Regions from separate parts of the Homo sapiens genome. Here region 1 is linked to region 2. The links come from fine-mapping of genetic effects on gene expression. A gene starts in region 2. The other region holds a variant in brackets. All regions are shown on one strand. Distances are between the middles of the regions. Region 1 has its middle 37 kb from the start of SMCR2. Region 2 holds the start of RASD1 (ras related dexamethasone induced 1).

Region 1 (5,366 bases), 150 kb after region 2:
GACTGCAGACTTTTGAGTTGATGCTGGAGCAGGTTAAGACTTTGGGGCTTTGGGGATGGAATGAGTACATTTTGCATGTGAGGACATGCATTTTGGGGCCCAGGGCAGACTACTGTGTTTTGAATGTGTCTCCTAAATTTCATGTGTGGGAGACTTAATCCCCAAATTCATATGTTGATTGGAGGTGGTGCCTTTGGGAGGTAGTTGGGATTAGATGAGGTCATTGGGGCAGGGCCCCCAGGAAGGGACTGATGACTTTCTAAGAAGAGGAAGAGGCTGGGTGAGGTGGCTCATGCCTGTAATCCCAGCACTTTGGGAGACTGAGTGGGTGGATAGCTTGAGCCCAGGTTTTTAAGACCAGCCTGGGCAATGCAGTGAAACTTCATCTCTATAAAAAATACAAAAATTAGCTGGGTGTGGTGATTTCGTCCACACGTACTGCAGTCCCAGCTACTCGGGAGGCATGAGGTGAGAGGATTCCCTGAGCCTGGGGAGGTGGAGGCTACAGTGAGCCGTGATCACATTGCTGCCCTCCAGCCTGAGCAATGGAGTGAGTCCTGTCTCCAACAAATTGTTTAAAAAAGGAGAGGACGAAAGACCTGAGCTGACAGCTTCTGCTCTCTCCCATGTGAAGCCCTGTGCCATGGAATGATGCCATGAGAAGTCCCACACCAGATGCCAGTGTGATGCGCTTGGACTCCCTAGCCTCCAGAACCATAAGCATATAAACCTCTATTGTTTATAAATGACCCAGTTTGTTTTATAGAAACAAAAAACTGAGACAGTTTTCTTACATGGCAAAAAGCGGGGTGGGTCTATCAGGTGTGACTGAGGATTCTGAGATGAGGAGATTGTCCTGGGGTATCGGGGTGGGCCCTGAATGCCATCACTAGTGTCTTTATAAGAATGGGGAAGCAGGCCATGGGTGGTGGCTCACGCCTGTAATCCCAGCACTTTGGGAGGCTGAGGTGGGAGGATCACCTGAGGTCAGGAGTTCAAGACCAGCCTGGCCAACATGATGAAACCCTGTCTCTACTAAAAATGCAAAAAATTGGCCGGGCACGGTGGCTCACGCCTGTAATCCCAGCACTTTGGGAGGCCAAGGCGGGTGGATCACAAGGTCAGGAGCTTGAGACCAGCCTGGCCAATATGGTGAAACCCCATCTCTACTAAAAATACAAAAATTAGCCAGGCGTGGTGGTACACACCTGTAGTCCCAGCTACTCGGGAGGCTGAGGCAGGAGAATTGCTTGAACTCAAGTGGCAGAGGTTGCAGTGAGCTGAGATGGCGCCACTGCACTCCAGCCTGGGCAACAGAGTGAGACTTCATCTCAAAAAAAAAAAAAAAAAATTAGCCGGGTGTGGTGGCACGTGCCTGTGGTCCCAGCCACTGGGGAGGGTGAGGCAGGAGAATCGCTTGAACACAGGAAGCAGAAGTTGCAGTGAGCTGAGATTGCACCACTGCACTCCAGCCTGGGTGACAAGAGTGGAACTCCATCTCAAAAAAAAAAAAAAAAAAAGAATGAGGAGGCAGAGTGATGACCACACACAGAAGAGAAGACAGGGTGCAGATGGAGTGGAGAGACCTCCAAAGATGCTGGCCTGGAAGACGGCAGTGATGTGGCCACAAGCCAAGGAAGGCCGGCAGCTGCCAGAAACTGGAGGAGGCGAGGAACAAGTCTGCCCTAGAGCCCTGCAGAGGGAGCACGGCCCTGCAGACACCTTGATTTCTGCACAGTGACACTGATTTCAGGCTTCTATCCTCCAGAACTGTGAGAGAGCAAATTTCTCTCACTTGTGGCAATTCATTACAGCAGGAAACAAACACACTCGCTAACCCTTTACTCCAATTTACCAGCGCCCTCCTCTGCTCCTGCTTATGGAGTGTATGTCATTCCCAGCTGGAATGCCAACTGAGGGCAGGGTTTTAAGAGCCTTGTTTTTCACTGCACCCTAGGGCTCACAGCACCAAACACAGGTTGAATGCACAACGAATGAATGAATGGAGGAACCAGTATTTTTTCATTTTTCAAAAGTAATAATAACTTTTACATGAATGTGGGCTTAGGCATATGCTTAGAAAAAGTCCCAAGGGGGCCGGGTGCAGTGGCTCATGCCTGTAATCCCAGCACTTTGGGAGGCCAAGGCAGGCAGATAACGAGGTCAGGAGAGCAAGACCATCCTGGCTAACACGGTGAAACCCCGTCTCTACTAAAAATACAAAAAGTTAGCCAGGCGTGGTGGCGGGTGCCTGTAGTCCCAGTTACTCGGGAGGCTGAGGCAGGAGAATGGCGTGAACTCAGGAGGCAGAGCTTGCAGTGAGCCGAGATTGCACCACGGCACTCCAGCCTGGGCGACGGAGCGAGACTCCATCTCAAAAAACAAAAACAAAAAAACAAAAAAACAAACAAAAAAAAGTCCCAAGGGAATCTACACAAATTTCTACCAGCACTTAGCACCAGGAATGAAACTACAGAAAGCTTCACATTCCACAGTGAACACTTTTGAGGGATTCAAGAACCTCTATTAATTGTTATCAAGAAACCAAATAAGAAAAGCAAACCATAAGGCCGGGTGAGGTGGCTCATCCCTGCAATCCCAGCACTTTGGAAGGCTGAGGCAGACAGATCACTTGAGCTCAGGAGTTCGAGACCAGCCTCGCCAACATGGCGAAACCCCAAAACCCCATCTCTACTGAAAATACAAAAAATTAGCCAGGCGTGGAGGTGAATGGCTGAGGCATGAGGATCACTCGAACCCAGGAGGCAGAGTGAGCTGAGTGAGCTCAGTGAGCTGAGATCGCACCACTGCACTCCATCCTGGGTGACAGAGCGGGACCCTGTCTCAAAAAAAAAAAAAAAAAAAAAGGCAAACCATGAAGAGGAGAGGAGCACCATTTTTTCCAAAAGGGTGATTCTCTATGGAGTTGGGGTCTGGAGAGCATCTGCTTGAATGGAAGT[C/T]GCCAACAGGAAGAAAGCCATGCTTTGCAGAGGCCTCACTAGCCTGGAGAGCCACCAGGGCCCTCAAGGGCAATCAAAGTTCCCATCATTGGACTAAGAGGGGCAGGAACGTCCACCTGTCTTTCCTCAGATAAGAGAAGGGGCTCTTGGAGACTTTGGGGGGCCATTTAGACGTTGAGAGCTTAGTTCCTACACCACAGTTCCTACACCACTGATGGCTGCTGCCATGTTTTATTGGCGACCTGCTCCGGGCCAGGCACGTGGATTGTTTTTAATCATCTCGGCAAAATCTCAAGGTGGGGCCAGTCTTTGATTTATGGAGGAGAAAACCGAGACTCTGAGAGGTGGTTTGCTCAATGTCACACAGCTGGAAGGTGGCAGAGGTGAGAGGGGCCTCTGGTCTGCACTGACCCTTCTCATGAGGCCACATATACCCACTACCATCTTAGCGCATGTCTCGGGGTCTGTAAGGATTTTCCACACTCGGGCAGTGCACCTTCTGGCCATTCCTGGGTCCTTGCAACACTGGTATCTCCCCAGTTCACCAGTCGTTTAAAAATGCTTAAGGGAGTTCAATTCTGCCCCAACACCAGGCAAACAGTGCCACCTGGCGGATGACAAGGACAGTACAGGAATTACCATGTGCCCTTGGGAAACTGTCCCCAGGCAGTTGTGATTCTAGGCCAAGGGCAGAGTTGTTTTCTTTGACTTCATAAGAGGGGCAGGAGAGGAGGCCCACTGTTACCACAGCTGAAAATCAGAGGGCTGGCCCTGTCTGGGTGCTTCTGACAGCGAACCCAGACTTTCTGGGTCCCCTCTATGGTATCCTGCCAAGAGATCATCCAGCTTGGGCTTAAATACGTCCAGGGTGGGGGTCTCACTCTCCATGTGTCTTCATCACAAAGTTCTTGCTATCTCCGTGTAACATCTACTCTTGGCTCTTGCTCTACTTCCACGAAGAGCTCATCAACCTTTCTGCCCTCTGACAGCCCTTTGGAGGATCCAGGGAGCTCCACTTTCTCCTCCAGACTAAGCAGCCTCCATCACTGCTCTCAGGACAGGAATCTGGCTCTTCTCCCTGAAGTCATGCTCCTCAGGTCTTCCTGGCTTGAGTGCTTGTGGTTGGGAAGTAGGATGGGAGGGGCAGAGACAGCTTCATTTTGCTGTATCCGATAGTGGAAGTGCTCTTCTCCCGACACCTGCCATGGCTGGAATCTTCTCACCATTCAGGTCTCAGCTCAAATATTACCTCCTTGGTAAGGCCTTCTCTGACCACCCTGGGCTCAAGTAGCCTCCCCAGGCCCACCCTCAGCCAAACCAATGGCACGTTTGCAGCCTGCCCCACCCCCACCCCCAACCTGGCCATGAGCTCCACAGGACAGGGATTTGTCTGTTGTGTTGGGTATTGAGTCCATGGCCGTGGAGCAGTGGCCAGCATCTGCTGGCTTGATCCTCACCGGGATGAAGAGCAAGGTAGGGCAGTGGCTCCACTGGGCTCCTCCAGAAGCAGAGCCTGGGATAAGGGCAAATAGTTAATTTGGGAGATATCCCCCTAAAATTCTTTTTTCTTTTCTTTTTTCTTTTCTTTTTTTTTTTTTAAGAGACAGAGTCTTCCTCTGTTATCCAGGCTGGAGTGTAATGACATGATCATAGCTCACTGCAGCCTTGAACTCCTGGGCTCAAGCGACATTCCTCAGCCTCCCAAGTAGCTGGGTCTACAGACGTGCACCACCGTGTCCACCTAATTTTTAAAATTATTTTTGGTAAAGACAAGGTCTTGCTTTATTGCCCAGGCTGGTCTCAAATTCCTGGGATCAAGAGATCCTGCTGCCTCAGCCACCCAAAACACTGAGAATTCAGGTATGAGCTACCATGCTTGGGTATCCCCCAAAATTCTAATGTTGAAGTCCTAACCCCCAGAACCTCAAGAGTGTAGTTGTCCCTTGATATCCACGAGGGATTTGTTCCAGGACCCTCACAGTAGATACCAAAAATCCAAGGATGCTCAAGTCCCGTGTATAAAATGGCATAGTGGCCAGGCGCAGTGGCTCACGCCTGTAATCCCAGCACTTTGGGAGGCCGAGGTGGGTGGATCACCTAAGGCCAGGACTTTGAGGCCAGCCTGGTCAACATGGTGAAACCCCGTCTCTACTAAAAATACAGAAATTAGCCGGGTGTAGTGGCACACACCTGTAATCCCAGCTACTCGGGAGGCTGAGGCAGGAGAAATGCTTGAACCTGGGAGGCAGCAGTTGCAGTGAGCCAAGATCGCACCATTGCACTCCAGCCTGGGCAACAAAAGCAAAGCGCCATCTCAAAGAAAATAAATAAATAAATAAATAAAATGACATAGTATTTGCATATAACCTAAGTGCATCCTCCCATGTACTTTAAATCATCTCTAGA
Region 2 (5,366 bases):
CACGTGGAACTACAAGACCCCCGGGGTCTTTCTGAGTGCAAGGCTGAAATGGACAAGGGCTCCTCACGGGGGTGGAGGGAGCCGGAGCCTGCCTTGTGTTCCTTTTTTGACTTGTGACATTTTTCAAACACATAATTAAAAGGACTTATGCTCTGCTGTCTCAGGACATAATGCTTTTTGTACTGAGAAATTCATAGTGGGATGGCTCTCAGATAGTTGAGAGGAAAATGTTTCTCTCAGTCTCTTCAGACACAACCACACCTCTGCTCCTCACTCCCTCCGCCCCAGCACACACACCCGCCCCAGCACACACACCCGCTGAACCAGTGTGGAACAGGAACTCCTCTCCCGGCTGGCCTCAAGGGCAGTTTGCCTGGCGGGTCATCCCTGGGCTGTCCTTAGTTGCCTTTTATTTTTGGAGGGGGGAGGTGGGGGGTGCCTTTTGGTGACTCGAGGAGGTTCAGTCCTGTGGGGAGCCGCCCTCACCAGAGCAGGGTTGAAATCCTTCTAGGACAATTTTGAGTGTCTCTCACAGGGCTGAGCGTCCTCTGAAAGCCACCAATTACTTGGATTACTGGGTGGCCGGCATTTATGCTAAGTACTTTTCAAACATCACACTTAATCCCCACAGTGAGCCCATGCCGAGGGTGTTCTCTCTTCCCGGGGTGAAGAATTAGAGGCTTGGCAGGTGTCACCCACCAACAGGTTTGCAGTACTAGTGGCAGAGAGATTGGTGTTCTGGGGTGCCTTAGCCATGAGACGGAGACAGCAAGGCTGAAGGGGGATGGGGCTCTACACCTGGCCAGGAGCACTTCCTGGAGCTAGAGGGGAGCAGAGGCTGAGGAGTTAGCTGTTTCCAGACAGGGTGGCACCCTGGAGTGAGCGGGTGGTGGGGGCGCGCCAGGATGGTCCTGTTTCCAGATGGGGTCTCAGGCTCTTTCCCCAGGGCCTGACTGATGCCTCCAACAGTCCGAAAGTTTGCCTGGGCCCACACTGAGTCTGGTGACAAAATGGTTAGGCACAGTTCCAGTGGCTTTTACGCTGAAGAATTCAGAACATTCTCTCAGAAAATGAGGCCTTTTGTCATCTAACCCAAAGAAAATTAAGCGGGTGGATGGCTAGAAAGAGTTCATCTCCAGGGGGGACCCTGAAATCCTTTATATTCTTCCCGGTTTTCTAGGGAACCATCCCCTACATAGATGCCCCAGGCATCTGGGGCTTTTCTGGCAGCTGAAGCTGCCTTCAGAAGGCCAGGGTTATTTTCCAGTTCTGGGGAAGGTAAGTTCTAGTTCCACCTAAGTCAAAGCCCAGCCCTTTCCTTCTCCCCACCCTTCCCCACTCCAGCCATCTCTAAAAGCAAAAAAAAAAAAAAAAAAACCGGTTTTCCATTTTAAATTATTTTATTGTATATTAAAAAACCAAATAAAGCAATAACTTTAAAGACCTCAGACACACACAGTATAAACACCTGGGTAAGGTTTTGTTCGTGTCCATGTTGACACCGGAACTACCGTTAAAGTGCAAGTTTTGTTTTGTGTTCCTTTGTGCAGTTTCACTCACATGTAAACAAGTCACTTGGCTATGATTTGACCCACGCCCCCCCGCTTAGTTTTGGGAGGGCAGAGGCTCTACCGGCTGTCACAGCAACCCGGAATCACAGACAAGATAATGCCCCGTGGGTCCTGACCCTCAAGCGGGCATGACGGTTTCTTGAAGCCTAGCAGAGGCTGGATAACTTCACATCCCTCCCCCACCCCGCGCTCACTCTTAGGTCTTTGAGAAGATAAATCCACCCTCGGCTGGGCCCTCGCTCCCAAAGTTATGGGGGTGGCGGGCCTCAATGGGGGACCGGGGGTGGGGAATAGTCCCAGTCTTGGCCCGTTCTCTTTCCTTCCGGAGCAGATGACCGTCCCTTCTCGGTTCAGTGGCGCCTCCCCAGTGCTGGGGGCGGATCGCCGGGAGGGGAGACGCCAGTCCGCGCGCGCTCCCGGCCTGGGGCGCACCGGGCCGTTGGATTTGACTTAACAAAAAGGTCCTCCTTAGGTTGTGTCGCCAGCGCGGCGGGGCTCCTAGCTGATGACGCAGCGCTCCTTGTCCTTGGCCTGGCTGCCGGCGCTGGCCTTCTCGCGGATGTACATGAGGTCGCTGTGTACGCTGGGCCGGCGCGCGAAGGGTGCCACGATGCCAAAGGCGTCGCCCGGGTCGCCGCCGCCGCCGCCGCTGCCGGCCCGCAGCAGCTTCTTGTTCCGCAGCGCCTTCTTGTGCAGCACGTCGCAGTACTGCACCGAGACCTTGCGGTGCAGGTCTGGGCTCATCTCGCTGGGCAGCTTGGCCATGGCGAAGAGCGCGCGGAACATCTGGTCCAGGCTGCTGTTCTTCTTGGCCGAGATCTCGAAGTAGGCGCAGCGCTGGGGGTCGTCGCCCACCAGCTGCTCGATCTCGCGCTGGTCCACCTCGCGGTAGAAGTCGCGGTCACCCTTGTTGCCGCAGATGACCAGGGGCACGTCCACGTTCTCCTTGGTTTTGTTCTTGAGGCAAGACTTGGTGTCGAGGATCTGCTGCCTGAGCCGCTGCACCTCCTCGAAGGAGTCGCGGTTGTCCAGACTGAACACCAGGATGAAAACGTCTCCTAGAGGGGGCACAGAGAGCAGAAAAGGAGAAGGTGAGGGTGGCCGCCCAGGGGACAAGTCGGGCTGACTTTGAGGCCGCGCGGGGCGCGCTAGCCTCTCTAAGCGCGAAGCGCACTACTCGGCGCGCGGCAGCCGGACCGGCGCTCGCGGGGCGCCCTGGCCGAGGGTTCCCCGCCCTTCCCTCCCGCACCTGCCCGGCCCCCGGCTCACCTGTGAGGATGGAGAGGCGCCGCATGGCGGGGAACGGGTGGTTGCCGGACGTGTCGAGGATGTCGAGCTGGTAGACCTCGCCGCGGATGGAGTAGAACTTGCGGTGGAAGTCCTCGATGGTAGGCGTGTAGGCGTCCTCGAAGCGGCCGGTGAGGAAGCGCGACACGATGGCCGTCTTGCCCACCTTGGACGAGCCGAGGATGACCATGCGATAGCAGTTCTTGGCCGGGATACTCAGCTCCGAGTCGCTCGGGCACATCTTCTTGATCATCGCGGCCAGTTTCATTGGGCAGAGGGGCCGCGAGGGCGGGCGCGGGGCCGAGAGAAGGGCAGAGAGCGGCTGAGGGTCGCTGGGGTGGCACGCGGGGTGAGCGGCTGGAGGGCTCTGCTCGGGCTGGGCGCGGCTCGGGCTTGGGGCTCCGGCTCCGCTCGGGCTGGGCTCGGGCTAGGCTGGGCTCGGCTGGGGTTCTCCCAGGATCTGGGCACAGGCCGCTTGCTCTGGCTTTGGCGCCCGGCCGCCGCCCTTATATGCAGCCTGCTCGGCTGCCCCGCCCCGGCCCTCCCAGCTCGGTGCGTCACGCCCCGCGGGGCCCGCCTCCCCCGCACCGGCTCCCAGTCCCGGCGACCTCGTCACCCGCTGCCGGGCTCCTGCTCTCTGGGCGCGGGGGCTGGGGGGAGCAGTCCAGGGTCGGGCTGAGGCTGGAGGCGCTCGGACTCCGCTTTTCCACTGCCGCGGGCTCGGCGGCCGCAGGGGCGTCGGGGTTCTGGTCCCGGCGGTGCCCCTGTCCCTCTGCGACTTCGGGCAAGGACCCCCATTCCTGCACCTCCCGCGCGCGTACACTTATTTTCTTTGGTTCTCAGTTTCCCCAGAGAATAGGAATCTAGTAAGTAACCCAGTAAGCGCAGCAGCGTTTGCTGAGTGCTTGCGCGGACCGTATATTGCAGTCCTCAGAGCACAGCCCCAGCCCCAGCCCCCTTCCGCTCCGGTCCCCAGCCGGGCTCTTGTTCCCGGGAGGCGACCGCCGGGCGGACGCGGGGTTTCAGGGCCTCAGGCGCGGAGCTCGGCACCGCGCGCTCGGGCCGCCAGAGGGCAGCAGAGGGCCCGGCCGGCGGCTCGGGGAGGCTGTGGCCGCCGCGGGCAGAGCTAGAACAGAGGCTAGGAGCAGGCGGGTGGGGAGCGGCAGGGATGGAGCAGGGGTCTCAGGGCGCCTTGCTGGGGCCCAACAGGAGCGGTCCCCAACCCCGCGCTCTGCTGCAGGCCTCAGCCTGCTCCTTTCTCCCAGCCAGAGATGCTCTGTGGTATGGAGGGCTCTGCAGCCAGCGGCCCACCCCGTCCATCATAGCATTTTGGGCTTTTACTGTGCCGCGCGTGGGCCGACGTTCTCATTGTCTAGCTGAGAGACCTGGAGCTCAAAGCCACAGCGAGCCAGGAAGGCCCTGGGAGCACAGCACAGCCTCTTGCTTTCTCCTGGGCCTCAGTTTTCTCTTCTGGAAGATACTGATTCTGGTTCTGTGATTAAGGATGAAAATATGCAAATGCTTTAGGAGGGCGGGGCCTGGTAATAACAATAGCAACAATAACAGTAGTATTGACCCATGAGGCCTGGTGGGGGTACTCTCAAGAGCACACCAGGTCGATCAGTAACCAGGAGTGGGGTGATGTTGCTGAACATTGGCAACAGGCTGTCTGGAGCCAGCTCCTCAGCCCTGAGCTCTTGAGGCAGTCACTGCTCCTCAAGGCAACCTGTGTGCTCAGTGTTTTGCTTTGGCCACGTCTGACTTACGAGAAAACTAGGGAGCCATTAGCTGGCACCACCGGCCCAGCTGTCAGGTGGTGGTCTGCAGGCAGTGCTGTGAGTGCCATACCACCCACCCCATGCCTACCCACCTCCCTCCCACGCTGGCACTTGCTGTAGGGGCTGCTGCAGGACACCACTAACTTGTTTCTCAGCCCAGCTTGGCCCCCATCCTCAGAGTCCCTGCATCTCTCCCAGGCCTCACTCTTACTGTCAGATATTTCAAATGCACGCATCACACAGTGAGCATCCAAGGGCTCATCAGTGGCCCTGGCCTGGCTCTGATTCCTGGTGTCACTTATGCAGCAGTTATCCGACAGGCTAGCTGGGGCTGGAGCCCCGCCATTCTTGGTTCCTGCCCCCATCTGAGGTATGTCTGCCAGAGTCTGGGAGAAGGGGAGAAGGAACTGAGTCGCAGCCCTGGATATAGGGCTGCAGTGGTGCAGGGTGTTCACTGCATAAAGGAGCCAGTTGAGGGTACATGGGGGGGCTCAGTTAAGGTACGGACCTGAACCACCTTCAGACTGAGCACCGCCTTCCTGTGCCTCCCACAGCGGCACTGCATGGGCAGCCGGGCTCTAACTTGGGATGACTGATGGCCAGGGCTATAGTGAAGGTGGACCCCACACAGCCATTGCCTCCTGGGGCTCTAGTCCCAAGAGGGTCCATTTGATATGAGTGGAGGGCCCGAGGGTCAAGGATCACAGCCCAGCTCTCCCCTGGTCAGTGT

Evidence for each region. PIP is the estimated chance that this variant, and not a neighbour inherited with it, causes the effect.
Region 1: its variant is fine-mapped to the expression of RASD1 in whole blood (TOPMed, PIP 0.98).

Annotation. Positions count from the first base shown.
Region 1 is chr17:17,638,430-17,643,795 of GRCh38, forward strand. No RefSeq gene overlaps it. Among named protein-coding and RNA genes, the nearest start is that of SMCR2, 37 kb to the right of the region's middle. The variant C/T (reference allele first, on the strand shown) is at 2,961.
Region 2 is chr17:17,493,056-17,498,421 of GRCh38, forward strand. RASD1 (ras related dexamethasone induced 1) reads right to left here and starts at 3,340. Exons shown (of 2, transcript NM_016084.5): 1 at 2,841-3,340; 2 at 1,382-2,629. The coding sequence starts at 3,126. The coding sequence ends at 2,070. MED9 (mediator complex subunit 9) reads left to right here. Exons shown (of 2, transcript NM_018019.3): 2 at 1-166. RefSeq lists silencers at 3,271-3,490, 3,651-3,780, 3,831-4,060.